Linked DNA regions of Homo sapiens: region 2 is linked to region 1. Evidence: fine-mapped expression QTL. Tissue or cell type: whole blood. Region 1 holds a variant in brackets; the other region holds the start of a gene. All regions are shown on one strand. Distances are between the middles of the regions.

Region 1 (8,111 bases):
TTAGTCACCAAGTATTACCTTTCTTCTTAACTTTTGTAATTTTCCAATTGGTCTAAATTCTCTATTCCTTTTTCTCTACCTTTTAGATGCATATTTTATGCTTTTGCAGGCAAGTTTATATCATTTACGAGTACTTATTAATATATACTTTTCTTTCGATTTTTGTATTTAATGCTTTGGACCCATCTCCAAATCTTCCATACTGTTTTAAATTTTGGCCAGGAAGCTTCCATGTGTGACAGAATTGACAATGGCTAATTTTTATTGAGCACTTTTTTTGTAAGCACATTTCAGTGCTGTAAGCTCATTGAATGTATTAATCAGTCTTCAGTGCAACTCACTGACATAGATACCATATTTAACTCCCATTTTACGGAGACGAAACAGAGACAAAGAAAAGTTTAAGTAACTTTTACAAGGTCACAGAGATAATATATCCCAAAGCCAAATTCCAATATTCAGTTGCCTGGCTCCAGAGTCAACCCTTTTACCCATTAGACCACAGTGCTTCTCAGAGATTCCTACACTGATTCTAAGCAAGAGACAATTACAGAAATATTTCTTGCTGTGTTAAACTTACATAGCAAGCATCACTTGCTTGTTTTATTTCTGATTACACATGATATACTAGTAAACTCTGAAAGCTGGATCACAGCCTTTTATTTCTTGTAGCCTTTGGAATGTGTGTGTGTGTGTGTGTGTGTGTGTGTGTGTGTGTGTTTTTGAGACGGAGTCTCGCTCTGTCATCCAGGCTGGAGTGCAGTGGCGTGATCTCGGCTCACTGCAAGCTCCGCCTCCCGGGTTCACGCCATTGTCTTGCCTCAGCCTCCCAAGTAGCTGGGATTACAGGTGCCCGCCATCATGCCCAGCTAAATTTTTTTGTATTTTGGGTAGAGACGAGGTTTCACCATGTTAGCCAGGATGGTCTCGATCTCCTGACCTCGTGATCCGCCCACCTCGGCCTCCCAAAGTGCTGGGATTACAGGCATGAGCCACCACGCCCGGCTGGAATGTGGTCTTTTCGGTTGTCTACATGTAGCAGGCAATTTCACAATTATGAGAATTAGCATAATCAAGAACAATGACGTGAGAATTCTTTTTTTTTAAAATTATACGTTAAGTTTTAGGGTACATGTGCACAATGTGCAGGTCTGTTACATATGTATACATGTGCTGTGTTGGTGTACTGCACCCATTAACTCGTCATTTAACATTAGGTATATCTCCTAATGCTATCCCTTCCCCTTCCCCCACCCCACAACAGGCCCCGGTGTGTGATGTTCCCCTTCCTGTGACCATGTGTTCTGATTGTTCAGTTCCCACCTATGAGTGAGAATATGCGGTGTTTGGTTTTTTGTCCTTGTGATAGTTTGCTGAGAATGATGGTTTCCAGCTTCATCCATGTCCCTACAAAGGACATGAACGCATCATTTTTTATGGCTGCATAGTATTCCATGGTGTATATGTGCCACATTTTCTTAATCAAGTCTATCATTGTTGGACATTTGGGTTGGTTCCAAGTCTTTGCTATTGTGAATAGTGCTGCAATAAATATGTGTACATGTGTCTTTATAGCAGCATGATTTATAATCCTTTGGGTATATACCCAGTAATGGGATTGCTGGGTCAAATGATATTTCTAGTTCTAGTTCCCTGAGGAATCGCCACACTGACTTCCACAATGGTTGAACTAGTTTACAGTCCCACCAACAGTGTAAAAGTGTTCCTATTTCTCCACATCTTCTCCAGCACCTGTTGTTTCCTGACTTTTTAATGATTGCCATTCTAACTGGTGTGAGATGGTATCTCATTGTGGTTTTGATTTGCATTTCTCTGATGGCCAGTGATGATGAGCATTTTTTTCATGTGTCTTTTGGCTGCATAAATGTCTTCTTTTGAAAAGTGTCTGTTCATATCCTTTGCCCACTTTTTGATGGGTTTTTTTTTTTTTTTTTCTTGTAAATTTGTTTGAGTTCTTTGTAGATTCTGGATATTAGCCCTTTGTCAGATGAGTAGGTTGCAAAAATTTTCTCCCATTCTATAGGTTGCCTGTTCACTGTGATGGTAGTTTCTTTTGCTGTGCAGAAGCTCTTTAGTTTTAGTAGATCCCATTTGTCAATTTTGGCTTTTGTTGCCATTGCTTTTGGTGTTTTAGACATGAAGTCCTTGCCCGTGCCTGTGTCCTGAATGGTAAAGCCTAGGTTTTCTTCTATGGTTTTTATGGTTTTAGGTCTAACATTTAAGTCTTTAATCCATCCTGAATTAGTTTTTGTATAAGGCGTAAGGAAGGGATCCAGTTTCAGCTTTCTACATATGGCTAGCCAGTTTTCCCAGCACCATTTATTAAATAGGGAATCCTTTCCCCATTGCTTGTTTTTCTCAGGTTTGTCAAAGATCAGATAGTTGTAGGTATGTGGCATTATTTCTGAGGGCTCTGTTCTGTTCCATTGGTCTATATCTCTGTTTGGTACCAGTACCATGCTGTTTTGGTTACTGTAGCCTTGTAGTATAGTTTGAAGTCAGGTAGCGTGATGCCTCCAGCTTTGTTCTTTTGGCTTAGGATTGACTTGGCGATGCGGGCTCTTTTTTGGTTCCATATGAACTTTAAAGTAGTTTTTTCCAATTCTATGAAGAAAGCCATTTGTAGCTTGATGGGGATGCCATTGAATCTATAAATTACCTTGGGCAGTATGGCCATTTTCACGATATTGATTCTTCCTACCCATGAGCATGGAATATTCTTCCATTTCTTTGTATCCTCTTTTATTTCATTGAGCAGTGGTCTGTAGTTCTCCTTGAAGAGGTCCTTCACATCCCTTGTAAGTTGGATTCCTAGGTATTTTATTGTCTTTGAAGCAATTGTGAATGGGAGTTCACTCATGATTTGGCTCTCTGTTTGTCTGTTATTGGTGTATAAGAATGCTTGTGATTTTTGCACGTTGATTTTGTATCCTGAGACTTTGCTGAAGTTGCTTATCAGCTTAAGGAGATTTTGGGCTGAGACAATGGGGTTTTCTAGATATACAATCATGTCATCTGCAAACAGGGACAACTTGACTTCCTCTTTTCCTAATTGAATACCCTTTATTTCTTTCTCCTGCCTAATTGCCCTGGCCAGAACTTCCAACACTATGTTGAATAGGAGTGGTGAGAGCGGGCATCCCTGTCTTGTGCCAGTTTTCAAAGGGAATGCTTCCAGTTTTTGCCCATTCAGTATGATATTGGCTGTGTGTTTGTCATAAATAGCTCTTATTATTTTGAGATATGTCCCATCAATACCTAATTTATTGAGAGTTTTTAGCATGAAGGGCTGTTGAATTTTGTCAAAGGCCTTTTCTGCATCTATTGAGATAATCATGTGGTTTTTGTCTTTGGTTCTGTTTATATGCTGGATTACATTTATTGATTTGCATATGTTCAACCAGCCTTGCATCCCAGGGATGAAGCCCACTTGATCATGGTGGATAAGCTTTTTGATGTGCTGCTGGATTCGGTTTGCCAGTATTTTATTGAGGATTTTTGCATCGATGTTCATCAGGGATATTGATCTAAAATTCTCTTTTTTGGTTGTGTCTCTGTGAGGCTTTGGTATCAGGATGATGCTGGCCTCATAAAATGAGTTAGGGAGGATTCACTCTTTTTCTATTGATTGGAATAGTTTCAGAAGGAATGGTATTAGCTCCTCCTTGTACCTCTGGTAGAATTCAGCTGTGAATCCCTCTGGTCCTGGACTTTTTTTGGTTGATAAGCTATTAATTATTGCCTCAATTTCAGAGCCTGTTATTGGTCTATTCAGGGATTCAACTTCTTCCTGGTTTAGTCTTGGGAGGGTGTATGTGTCAAGGAATTTATCCATTTCTTTTAGATTTTCTGGTTTATTTGCATAGAGGTGTTTATAGTATTCTCTGACGGTAGTTTGTATTTCTGTGGGATTGGTGGTGATATCCCCTTTATCATTTTTTATTGCGTCTATTTGATTCTTATCTCTTTTCTTCTTTATTAGTCTTGCTAGCCGTCTATCAATTTTGTTGATCTTTTCAAAAAACCAGCTCCTGAATTCATTGATTTTTTGAAGGGTTTTTTGTGTCTCTATCTCCTTCAGTTCTACTCTGATCCTAGTTATTTCTTGTCTTCTGCTAGCTTTTGAATGTGTTTGCTTTTGCTTCTCTAGTTCTTTTAATTGTGATGTTAGGGTGTTAATTTTCTATCTTTCTTGCTTTCTCTT[G/C]TGGGCATTTAGTGCTATAAATTTCCCTCTACACAGTGCTTTGAATGTGTCCCAGAGATTCTGGTATGTTGTGTCTTTGTTCTCATTGGTTTCAAAGCACATCTTTATTTCTGCCTTCATTTGGTTATTTACCCAGTAGTCATTCAGGAGCAGGTTGTTCAGTTTCCATGTAGTTGAGCGGTTTTGAGTGAGTTTCTTAATCCTGAGTTCCAGGTTGATTGCACTGTGGTCTGAGAGACCGTTTGTTATAATTTCTGTTCTTTTACATTTGCTGAGGAGTGCTTTACTTCCAATTATGTGGTCAATTTTGGAATAGGTGTGATGTGGTGCTGAAAAGAACGTATATTCTGTTGATTTGGGGTGGAGAGTTCTGTAGATGTCTATTAGGTCCGCTTGGTGCAGAGCTGAGTTCAATTCCTGGATATCCTTGTTAACTTTCTGTCTCGTTGATCTGTCTAATGTTGACAGTGGGGTGTTAAAGTCTCCCATTATTATTGTGTGGGAATCTAAGTCTCTTTGTAGGTCTCTAAGGACTTGCTTTATGAATCTGGGTGCTCCTGTATTGGGTGCATATATATTTAGAATAGTTAGCTCTTCTTGTTGAATTGATCCCTTTACCATTATGTAATGGCCTTCTTTGTGTCTTTTGATCTTTGTTGGTTTAAAGTCTGTTTTATCAGAGACTAGGATTGCAACCCCTGCCTTTTTTTGTTTTCCATTTGCTTGCTAGATCTTCCTCCATCCCTTTATTTTGAGCCTATGTGTGTCTCTGCACCTGAGATGGGTTTCCTGAATACAGCACACTGATGGGTCTTGACTCTTTATCCATTTTGCCAGTCTGTCTTCTTACTATCACATTTGCTTCTACCAGCCACACACCTGGAATCCTCTAGCCTTTGTTTTTACTCTGCAAATCAATATGCATTTCAGGATCTTTAATTGTCCTAATATGTGCTTTTTCTACCTTTTTCATCCCAACTCATGTTTTGCTAGTTCTGCCTACTTACAACTTTAGCCCCATGTCATTAAAAACTCAGCCATCCTGTAGTTGTTTCATATTTATTCTGTTAGGTGCCCAAGAAAAGTATTGACTTACTTATATAAAGGATACTTTATATAGTATGTGTGTAACTTTGTTAGACTATCTCTGTCATAGCTAGAGTTCCCTGGGCGTTGGTGGTAAATGAAAATGTTTCTTGCTGATCATATCCTTGCCCCAAACCACGCATTTTCTCTGGCCTTTCTGTATCCAAAGAGCTTGAAGACATGGATGAGGGGCTTATTTCTTGTCTGAAAATAGACAGCAGCGTTCCTATCTTCCTATAAGGGAAAATACAGGAAAATTATTTCCTTTTCATTCCTTTTCCATATCATTTCTCTTCCTCTTAGAGAATATCATCTGAACAATGATTTTAGTAAAGTTGAAAAAAGATGTTGGTACCACTATCTTAGTATATTAGAAAATAGAGTGAAAAAAGATGTTGGTACCACTATCTTAGTATATTAGAAAATATTTCCTTCTTCCACACATCCTTTCCTGTTTCTAGTCACATTGGCACATGGACTTATTTCCACAAAGAAATCAGTTAAGGCAGAAGTTTCAATTTGTTGGAAGATAGTTGTTATGAAGGGAGAGAAGGAGAAAAGAAGAAGGAGAAGGAAAAGGGGTCATTTTTACTGTTAAAGAAAGTGTGCTAAACTTAATACTTCTATCCTAGAGTGAGATTGTTGAGGAGAAAGGGGTGAAGAAGAAATGACTGTCATTTTCTCTGTTCAAAAAGGGTCCCAGGTAAGGGAGCATATTTTTCCAGAATTAAGGGTGAATAAGAGAAGACAAAGAATAACTTCACAAAAAAACCATTAACCTATCACAAAAACCTGTCTCAACTCCCTCAGTTCCCTTTTTTTTTCCCCACTTCAGCCATTTCTTCTCCCATGATAATGTCAAGGAAGGCGTTATTGAGTGGGTTTGCTTCTCAATAATATTCACCAGCTTCCCCACAAAAGACACATAAGCAGAGAAATACAGTCTTAGGAAAAACAGTATGTCTGCTATGCAACACAACTTCAAGAAAAGCCCTCTAGCCCATCATCCGACCACACTGTCATCCCTAGGCCCCTCTAATGTAGAAATTCCAAAGTTCCTACTGACACCCCCGATGCTCTGCAATGAGCATGCTGAGTTTCTTTTTCCCTCCCCCAAATAGTGCCTTTTTTCTCCATTCATTTGTACATGCTGTTTTCTTAAGCTGGAAGGACTTCTCTCAATTTAGATATTTTCTAGGAAAACTTTTTCACCTCTTTGAGTAGGATGCCCCTACGATGTGCTTTTAGCCCCCACAGCAACCTCCACTTACTCGTTTATTGAACACATACTATGCCATATATACTGTGTGATACCTGATAGGGATCCCACTGTGAGTACTACACTCCCAAAATGGACACTGGGTAAAGAATGGTTTTGATAATTATTTTATACTTATAAGAAACAAATAATTTATGTGCTATGTAACTTATTCTCATGTAAAAAAAGTTAATAGTACAGTTTGCAAATTATTTTATCAACCTAAGATAGCCTTTTACTGAAAACTCTCAATAAAACTACGATCAATCCAACTTATGAAATACATGTACAGAAATACAGAGTACATCCAAACTGTATAGTAAAATAATGTCATTTGTTTTTATTAATACAAGGAATTCCAAGTTAGAAATCTATCAATATATGAAGCAAATAGGTAACAAAAGTAAAATGCATTGTTACCTAACTAGATGCCAAAAAGCATTTGATAGAATACAACATTCACTCTTAGTAAAATGTCTCAGTAATCTAAGCTTAGGAGGATAATTCATTAAGATAATGAAGATTATTTCTCTTTAACAGTTGGTCAGTATAATTACAAATGGTGAGAAACTGGAGGCATTTTCCTAAAAGTCATTCAAAAATGCATTATTATATAACATCTTCCCCTGAATGATCCAACAATAGAAAAAATATCATTGCATGTACTATCATATTTCACGTTCAATCATGCTTTAACAGCTATAAGTTTTTCTTCTAGAATGCTGACTTTCTGGCGTGTGATGGGCATGGTATACATGTGAGACTATTTAATCTGTCAGAGACTACCACCATTGCAAATTGTAGCCTTGGAGAAGAATAAGGAAAAGGGACAATGCACATATATAATATTACAAAAAAGAAGTTTCTAATAATATAAATGATTGCAATTTTGTACTTATGTGTCTGAAGAAATGACACCAAAATGTTAACTGTGGTTTTCTCTGGAATGTGAGACTTAGGGCACTAATAATTTATCTTCTCCATATTTTCCGAACAATTTTAAATTAACCTATATTTTATTACTATATGTATCAGAAATAGTATTTTCACATTTTTCTTGGAAGATAATTGTGGCAAGAATGTGTAGAATGGACAGTTTTCTCTAAAAACCAAGTAGGGAATAAAACAGACAATGGACAGGAAATTGGAGTGGGGCTTTATGTTCTATCATATTACATAGATTAATTCAATGCCATTTAGTGTTCTTATGTCCACCAATCGATCTAACACTTATATCCACCATCATCAGACATACTGATACAGCCTCAGTTATTGCAAAAAGATTCTAGAACCCACCATTTAGAATGTGATCAAGCTTAGCAGTGCTGATAGGAAGCACTGTAGAGCATCCGGCAGTATCACACAAGAAAAAAAAAAGATAGAGGCGATGCCTGGTGGGTGGGAGGGAGCCTAGGGAAACATCAGGGGCTTCTGTTACCTCTGCTTTTTTCTTTGTTATAAAAATGTAGAATTTCAGTTTGTTGATTCTCCAGGTTTTATTCTTCTCTCCCCAAAGGCTCCATCATAGATCGGTTCTCAGTA
Region 2 (8,111 bases), 31 kb before region 1:
GGCAAGAGAGGTTCATATGGTTTACATTGGGATAAGGAAGAATACCTATCTTACAACTTAAGTGAGGTATATCAGAACTTAGTTTTTTTAATGGGCTGTGATACAACTTGTACCACATCTAAAGCATAAAATGTATTTTAATGGGGCTTTTTCTATTAACAGGGAAAAACCCTAAACCAAACACTAAATGAAATTATTAAAAATTCTTTAGGTATCATCAAGTCCTGATGTAGACACTGGAGTAACAAGCATTCTGGGCATTCTTGTAACTTATTCTCCTTCCTCTACTAAACCAGGCGTAGGTTAGTTTCAACACGGGAAGAACTCTCTTTCATTCCTTTTCTTTTACCTCCCTAGAGTAGTATGACAGTGAATTCCTCAAAACTCTGGGGGTACAGATATGAAACAAATGTGGTCTCTAAACATAACAGAATTATTAAATCTCAGAGTTCAGTGAGGATTGAAAGTTAACCATCATCCCCTATAAACCTCCATATTGTGAAGTCCCTTAAATGGTTGAATTATTTCTGCTAAAATACTGATATCCAGCCCCCTAGCTTCAAAAAGAGAAAAGATACTTCTCCTTTCCTTTTGTGATCTTAATCCACTTGGACTTTTACAATTGCTGCTTTAAATTTTTCATGAACTATCTTTACAGCAAACCATTTTAATATTTTTCTGAGGTTTAAAGTCTAGTTCACAATTTTATCGCTTGATATATGAGATGCCATGTCTTCCAATTTATAATGTAATATAATGTAATGTTTAAGCAAGGGGTTAGAGGTGTACCACTGGGAAGAATAAGAACTGAATTTATTTTTTTGGTATTGCTTTTCAAAAGTCTTAGTTAACCTGTATGTATCTAAAATAATATACATCCAAGAACTAAGTTTTATGTTACATTTAACAGAATGAAAATCTATACTGAAAAATGAAAATCTATACTGAAAGCCAAAATTGGATGACTCTTTACCATACTTCCAAATATGAAACACTGTATTCATTCTGCCTCCAAATTCTACACTCCAGTATCCAACCAATTCAGAGTGAGCTGTCCGAAGATGAGCGTTTTTCTCAAAATTTTCCAGGAACTCATTCATCTTTGAGGGCTTAAGGTAATAAGAACGAAATTCATAGAATATTCCATCGTATTGTCTGGGTCCCGTAGCAAAAGATGAGCACATCTGAAGAAGATAAGACAAATGTAAATATCTTGAGAAGACAGGATTCATTATATTGTGTTAAAACCTAATCTGAATCTGGTACAAGGGACACTCATAGACTCATTACTCATGTTTGTACTTCTGTTGTCAATTCTCAATATGTTACTGATGGAGGGTGTCCAGGTTCTTGGTGTTTGAACAAAGAACTGGACAAAATGCACAAAGCAAGGAAAGAATGAAGTAACAAAAGCAGAGATCTATTGAAAATGAAAGCACACTCCACAGGGTAGGAGTGGGCCTGAGCAAGTGGCTCAAGGGCCCTGGTTACAGAATTTTCTAGGGTTTCAGTACCCTCTAGAGGTGTCCCATTGGCTATGTGGTGTAAGCCGTATATAAATGAAGAGGATGAAGTAAAGTTGCAAAGTCATTTACTCTGTGTACACCCTATGTAAATGAAGAGGGTATTTCTTGTCATAGCTGAAGGGTTTGATTTAGTTCTAGGAAGTCCTTAGGTTCCCTGCCTCAAGACCCTATTCTCCTGCTTCACATATACATTTGTTTACATAGAGGTGTCAATAAAGACAACTACTCTTAAATATGCTGAGTGTGTAGTTACTGTTTCCTAGTGGGGGTTCACTGTCACCTTTAGCCACTTTTTCAGAAATTGCTCATAAGAAGGCGCTGAGATCTTAATGATACTTCTTTATCCAAGAACTACAATTAGGATTCTAACAAATTTACAAAAGTTTTCCTATTAGCCAATATTGCATCTTTAGTCAAGAGCATACGTGTTACAGTTATGCACATCAAAGAACTTTATTAACTACGCACGTAACTTTTGGCAGGCATAATGAAAAAAATGTTTACTAGAAGAAAACTCTTTTAGGTTCTTGAAAAAAATGGAAATTACAGTTCAGGTCAAAGTATTTCCTAATTCAATGAAGTAAACCACTGACCAAAATTAGGACTGGAATGTAACTAATGCAATAAAAAGCTCTGACCTATCCAATTGCATTGTAATATAATGGTAGAACATGAATGCTGAGAAAAGAAAATTCAGAGTCAAAATTTTCTTATTAGTTTCTAATTACAGATGCAATGTGAACAACATTTAATGAATCCACTTATACCACATTGATGAAAATATCACTTAAGAACCATTAATTCCTTTTGTAATAGTCATACACGCACTGTAAATTTCTAATTTGTGTTCTGGTTGAACTTTCTGTAAGAAATACCTCGCCTAAGATTATCCTCTATGTAGGTATCTATGTGTATATATGTATACACATACACACACACATACGCACACACACATATATATATGCACTCATGGTATACACACAGGCATTCGTGATATTCTTATAAATCCATCTTACTTAAGTTTGAATAGCATGTGCCATTTCCTTAAGTTGATTACACCAGAATAATCTGTGAAGACAGTTTTGATACCTACAAAGCTATGGACAAATTAGGGCTTATACTGACTAGCCAGTATGTCTGTCTGAAAGCAGTAGGCTTTTGCTCCGACATATTTTTGTTTACAAAATACAAAATTATGTAACTGTGTATGATAAGGCTTAATGATAATTATCTAGAGTTAATTCTATTCGTGTGTGACTTATATTCTTATTGCTCAAATGACTAAGCCTACCAACAAAAACAGCTGCAGCTGCCCCTGCCTTTTGTGGACACTCTTTTTGTGCTTTTAAACCAAACTCTAGTAACAATGTTGGTCAAGAAGCAAGTGCCTAGTATCCATAATTTCAAAATTATTATAATAAAATATATCAGGAGATAGGCCAATGGGGCATTTGTGACAAATGGATTTCAGGTTGATTCGAGGAATTTGTATTTGGAGGATAAAATAGTTGATCAAAGGTACACATTTTTACAATTTTGGGCAGTATTAATATACAGTAGGGAACCTACAGTGAGAGAGGGAGAGAGATGTGGACAGGTGGTGCCAGAGAAGGAAGACTGCAGGGGAGCCGGGTATGGTGGGGGAGCCGGATGGGAGTTAAGAATTTTGTTGCAGGGATGACTTTTAGCTGCTAGGGCAGAAATCATGAGTCGTCCATCCTCCCTTATCTCCAAGTTAGGGATCATTCCCACCAGCAACGACCTCCACTTCACTTAAAAGAGAACAACTGATGGACATTTCTAAAAACTTAAAGTTTGGAATCATGCCATAAGGACGTCATTCCTGGCCCTGCCCCACTGGAGAATCATTAGGGTAAAAACTGCATTGTTAACCCGGGGTGAATGGACATGAGCTGCTCTTCTTTAGTGCTCCTCAGTCTGTCTCTAGGACAGGTTAATCCCCTTCCCATCCTGCCCCTTCAGAAAGGAGTAAAGTCCTAAACATCAAAAGGAAAAGAAATTTCTAGGTTGAAGCCACAGAATAGGCCACTCCCGAAAGTTAGGGCAGAATCACAAGCTCCATTTTGTCCATTTCTCATCTAAGGTTAAAAGAGTCTGTCTGTCATCGTCCGGTTTGATAGGAGGCTCCGGTCCCGCCTGGTTGGGGGAGCGACCACACGAAGCGCGGGTGGCGGGCAGGGTCCAGCCCCACCGGGACCCTGGGCCTCCTCTTCAAGGGTCTCCGCGAAATGCTCGGAAGTTGTGTGCTTCATTTAAAAGGGGGAGGCCGGTTCCGTGGCAAGCGGCTGGTTGACAATTCCCTCCTTCAACCTGATGTCTAGAGAGGGCGGTGGCTTGGAAAGCTACGACTCCACCCGCGGCTCCACAGCGCCAGGTGACAACATGGGAGCGCTCGCTGGGCCGCAGCCGCGACATAGCTGGGCAGCAAAAACGAAACAGCCGGCGCCATGGGAGTGTCCCGGTGGGTGTGGCATCCAGGCTAGAAAAGCCTTCTGACCACCACTGCCCGCGAGACGACCCCGGCTGGGGGTATTCCCCTAGCAGCGGCCTCCTCCTCACGCGCGTTCCGGGTACCCCTGTCTTGGGGTTCCGGGGCTCACGCTAGAACCTCACCGGGGCCCCAGGTCTGGGCGCGCGTGGCGGAGAGCGCATGCGCATTGCTCGCACGTACCCGGAACACTCCCCGCCCCGCCCCTCCCCTCCCGTCGGGTGAAGGCTTGGGTACCCCCGTGGCCGGTACCTGAGGCGCCAGCGTCCGTGAGGCCAGCGCCCGAGTCAGGGCGCTTCTGAGGACGAGCATGGCGCGGCTTCGGCGCTGAGAAAAGCAGCCAGCCGTGTCCTTTCTGAGACTCCTCTGAAGGTTTCCCGAGTGGAAAGGAGCGGCTCCTGGATCATTGGCAGACGCAGGCTGGGGCGGGGCTCGGCGGGGTCAGCTCCACCCCGGCGCGGGAGGCGCGGCGGGTCCCGTAGCTTGGTGTCTTTCTCTGCTGTGCTGAGCGTTGGTTCCCCCTTGGTTTCCTGAAACGTTCTTACCCCAAACGTTAGAGGTGACGTTAGGATTAACTGAAGGCTCGGATCGTTCCTGCTTCAACTTTCTGGGCCCTCACTCACCTCATTCGCTCCAGTGCTCAGTTGTGTAGATTGGTAAATGTGCAGGGGTTGTGGGTGTGTTGACCATGGGGAAAGAAGGAGAGGTGTTGAGTGCGTGCATGTGCAGTGCTTTGTATTTAAAATCGTGGAGGTTTTTTCCGAGTTAAGTTTTAGATGTTGTGATAGACGTGTATTTGAGCCTGACCTCTCTGCAATGAATGTGTTCTCCATCTTAGAAGGCTCCTAATTAAGATTTAGATTAAATTTTCCACGAGCTCAGAGAAATGGCAGCATCGAGCCTGAAATGAAAAAGTCAAAGTTAAACATACCCTGGTCTAGTCCTCCCAGTCCGGGAGTGTTGGTTCCCAGAGTAACCACCTTCAACATTTCAAGCTGTTTCATTTAATGCTTGTTTCTGTATTTTTAAGTAAGTAGTGTTTTCTGCTGTTTATTGCATTTTCAGTTATGGATAGTATGTGTTGACTTCCTTCTGTGGCAGATGAGGATTTATGTCTCATAGATGCCACTGCCCCCAAATTCACTTGTCTTCCTGCATCTAATAATGCTTATGTTAATTTACAGTAATTAATTACACTATTAATTTACAGTAATCTATATTAATGTTTACATTATTCTTGCTAATAATTACATTATTGTAAACATTAATGTAATATTGCTTACATCATGAGGACTAGGGAGGGATTGCAGGGCCATGACCTGGGTTGTATTGGTTGTGCCTTGTGGAAGAGCTTTGGAATTGTCTGTTCAAAGGAAGGGAGACTTTTTAAAATTAGTTATTTCGGAAGGGTTGCCTCAGTTTTTCTAGAAGAGAGACATCTATTTGTAACCATGCAAGACTAAAAAAATCATTTGTATCAGGACTGGATCTATATGAGTAAATTATTTTCTTAGACCTTTTTTTTTAAACCCTGTAATTGCCAATCCATTTACTTATTCAACAGATATTTACTAAATTCCTTCCATGTTCCAGGCACTTTTCCAGAAACTGGGGTACAGAATTGAGCAAAATTCAAAGTCCCGTCCTCTTGGAACATCCAGGATGGAGGAAACAGATAAAAAAAGGAAGAGTAAATATATCAGGGATTGTCAAATAATATAAAGAAAAATAAAGTAAGATACGAATAAAGGTGCTAGTGGAATTCTAAAAGTGGTCAGGATTCTAGCTATTGACTTGGATATTTAGGATTTAGGTTTCTTCATACCACTCCCTCAAAATACACTTTCCTTCCTGCGTTTATTGATGTTTACATTAAAAATATATTTTGGAGTGAGAAAAACATGTTAAAAGCACTGTAAGCACAGGTGAATCTCTTCAAATAGTGGGCTTCACTGTGAGGTGATCTGACCTGGGTATTTCACTGAAGGCTGTATCCCCTCCCCCCAAACTGTTATCTGCAAGTTATTTATCTGTGTAGTCAGTGTTAGGGAAGGGAAACTTCCAGTATCTTATCTGTGTGAGAAAAGCCTTGCTGCCAGTTTCCTGAGGCTGAGGAGGGAAGAAGGCCAGAACACTCAGCATTTGGTAGTATCTTTCAATAATATATTAATTAGGGTAGATTAAATAGCTCTTGTAAATCAACACTCAAAAAAGTGTATTATTACTCAAACACTATAGGAGTTTATTTTTTATAAGAATACAAAGTGGGTTTTTCTAGTTGGCAGGTAGCTCTTCTATACTTAGTGAATTAGGGAGCCAGGCTTCTACCCGGTGGCTTTGCCATTCCCTAGTCTCATCATTAACTGCATCCATCCAGCAGAAAGATACAGGGAACTTCCAAGAGGAATTTCCAAGAGGAAAATACAGATAGGGGCAAAATTCATGGCTACAATTGAGAGATGGCTAAACATTGTTAAGTGCTTCTAAGTAGCTAAAATATTCTCCTATTCTCTTTCTCACAGGTTTTAAATATCCTCAAATACTGTGAGTTAAGCTTTATCTCCGTTTTTTAAGTGAGAAAGGTGAAGTCTGAAAAGAGAATTTTCTCAGTTTCATTGCTACGAAGTGGCACAGACTTTGAAGCCCAATTGTAAAACCAGTTCAGTTTACCATTTATTTTTAAAAGATATGTGATTATTAAGGTAATTTTAGATTTGCAGTGGAAAGTAGCTTTTAGACAGAATTTAAAATGTAATATTGTTCTGTGGCTATTTTAAAAAGCATATCCCTAAACTGCCTGGAAAATGTATAGGATAAATATTTTGAAAATTATTGTTGCATATCCTGAAATTCTGACAAATAGTCCAAAGGATAGACAGTTCAAAGCTAGAAAAATCCTATCAAAAAACTAGATTATTAAAATAGGCTCGTATGATATAGAGTAACTGGGTAGTTATTTTGGATTGGATAGACAGAGATGACCTATCTAAGAAGGTAATATCAAACATTTATTATAGGTATGAAAGTGTATATGAGATATCTGTACACTTTAAAGAAGAATAATAAAGTGAATGTCTGTGCTCTTGCCACAAGGCTTAAGCAAAAGGGTATTGCCAGCAACTCAGAAGCTCAATACATGTTCATTCCTGGTCACATTCTTCTTACAACCCTCTCCTCCAATTCCCTCAAGTAACCATGATCCCAAATTTTGTGTTATTACATTGATTTTTCTGAAATAATTCAACTACATTTGTATATAACTCTAAAGAGTATATTGCTTTGGTTTGCCTGTTTTAGATTGTTTATTAACTAATTTTATTATTTTGTTACATAACTGTTAGCTATAACTTTAGGCTTTTGCAAATCAACCACATTAATGCAGTTGTAATAATTAATTCACATCCCTTTAGTATGCTATTCTATTACATGAAAATACCTTGTTTTTTTGTCCATCTGACTATTATAAACAAAGCTGTTTGAATTTATTTGTAGATGTCTCCTGGTTCCGCCAGAAGAATTTCTCTAGGGCAGGTATTACTAACCTTTTTTTGTGTCTTAAAATCCTTTCAAAATCTTGTGAGCCTGTGGATCCCAAATGTTTTTAAATGTATAACAAATACATAGGGTTGCAAAGAAAACAAATACAGTGAAAAAAGTGAACTAGAATAATCAAAATACAAAATCAAATATGAAAAAAATGAACTAGAATAATGAAATATAAAAAACTTTTTAAAAAGAAATAGAGATGCTTCTTTATTAGGGCACTAAAAAACAATATCTAATAGTGGGTGTAAAAGATGTAATTTTGAAGTAGTGATAAGTGTGGAAGAAATTTTTATGTATTTACAACAACTATAAATGGAATTTGACATTGTCTATAATATTTATTGGTTACAAAGTCACAGGTCCTGCTAATATTGTGGTTTGTTGCCTACCTTCATAAAGGAAATGGTTAATTTTAGTTAGAAGTTGTTGCCAATAAAGATGGAATTGTTATTCATCCAACTTATCAGACCCTCTGAATTCTATCTATAGATTCACTCAGGATCTGTGTACTGGAAATTACAAACCACTAC

The links. PIP is the estimated chance that this variant, and not a neighbour inherited with it, causes the effect.
Region 2: NIPSNAP3A starts here. The variant in region 1 is fine-mapped to the expression of NIPSNAP3A in whole blood (INTERVAL, PIP 0.91).

The regions. Positions count from the first base shown.
Region 1 is chr9:104,713,044-104,721,154 of GRCh38, reverse strand. The region is part of intron 1 of LOC107987105 (a long non-coding RNA gene); the gene reads left to right. Among named protein-coding and RNA genes, the nearest start is that of OR13D1, 23 kb to the right of the region's middle. The variant G/C (reference allele first, on the strand shown) is at 4,226.
Region 2 is chr9:104,744,029-104,752,139 of GRCh38, reverse strand. NIPSNAP3A (nipsnap homolog 3A) reads right to left here and starts at 4,457. Exons shown (of 6, transcript NM_015469.3): 1 at 4,288-4,457; 2 at 974-1,184. The coding sequence starts at 4,347. LOC107987105 (a long non-coding RNA gene) reads left to right here and starts at 4,501. Exons shown (of 5, transcript XR_007061705.1): 1 at 4,501-4,691. RefSeq lists an enhancer at 3,894-4,053 and a silencer at 4,474-4,563.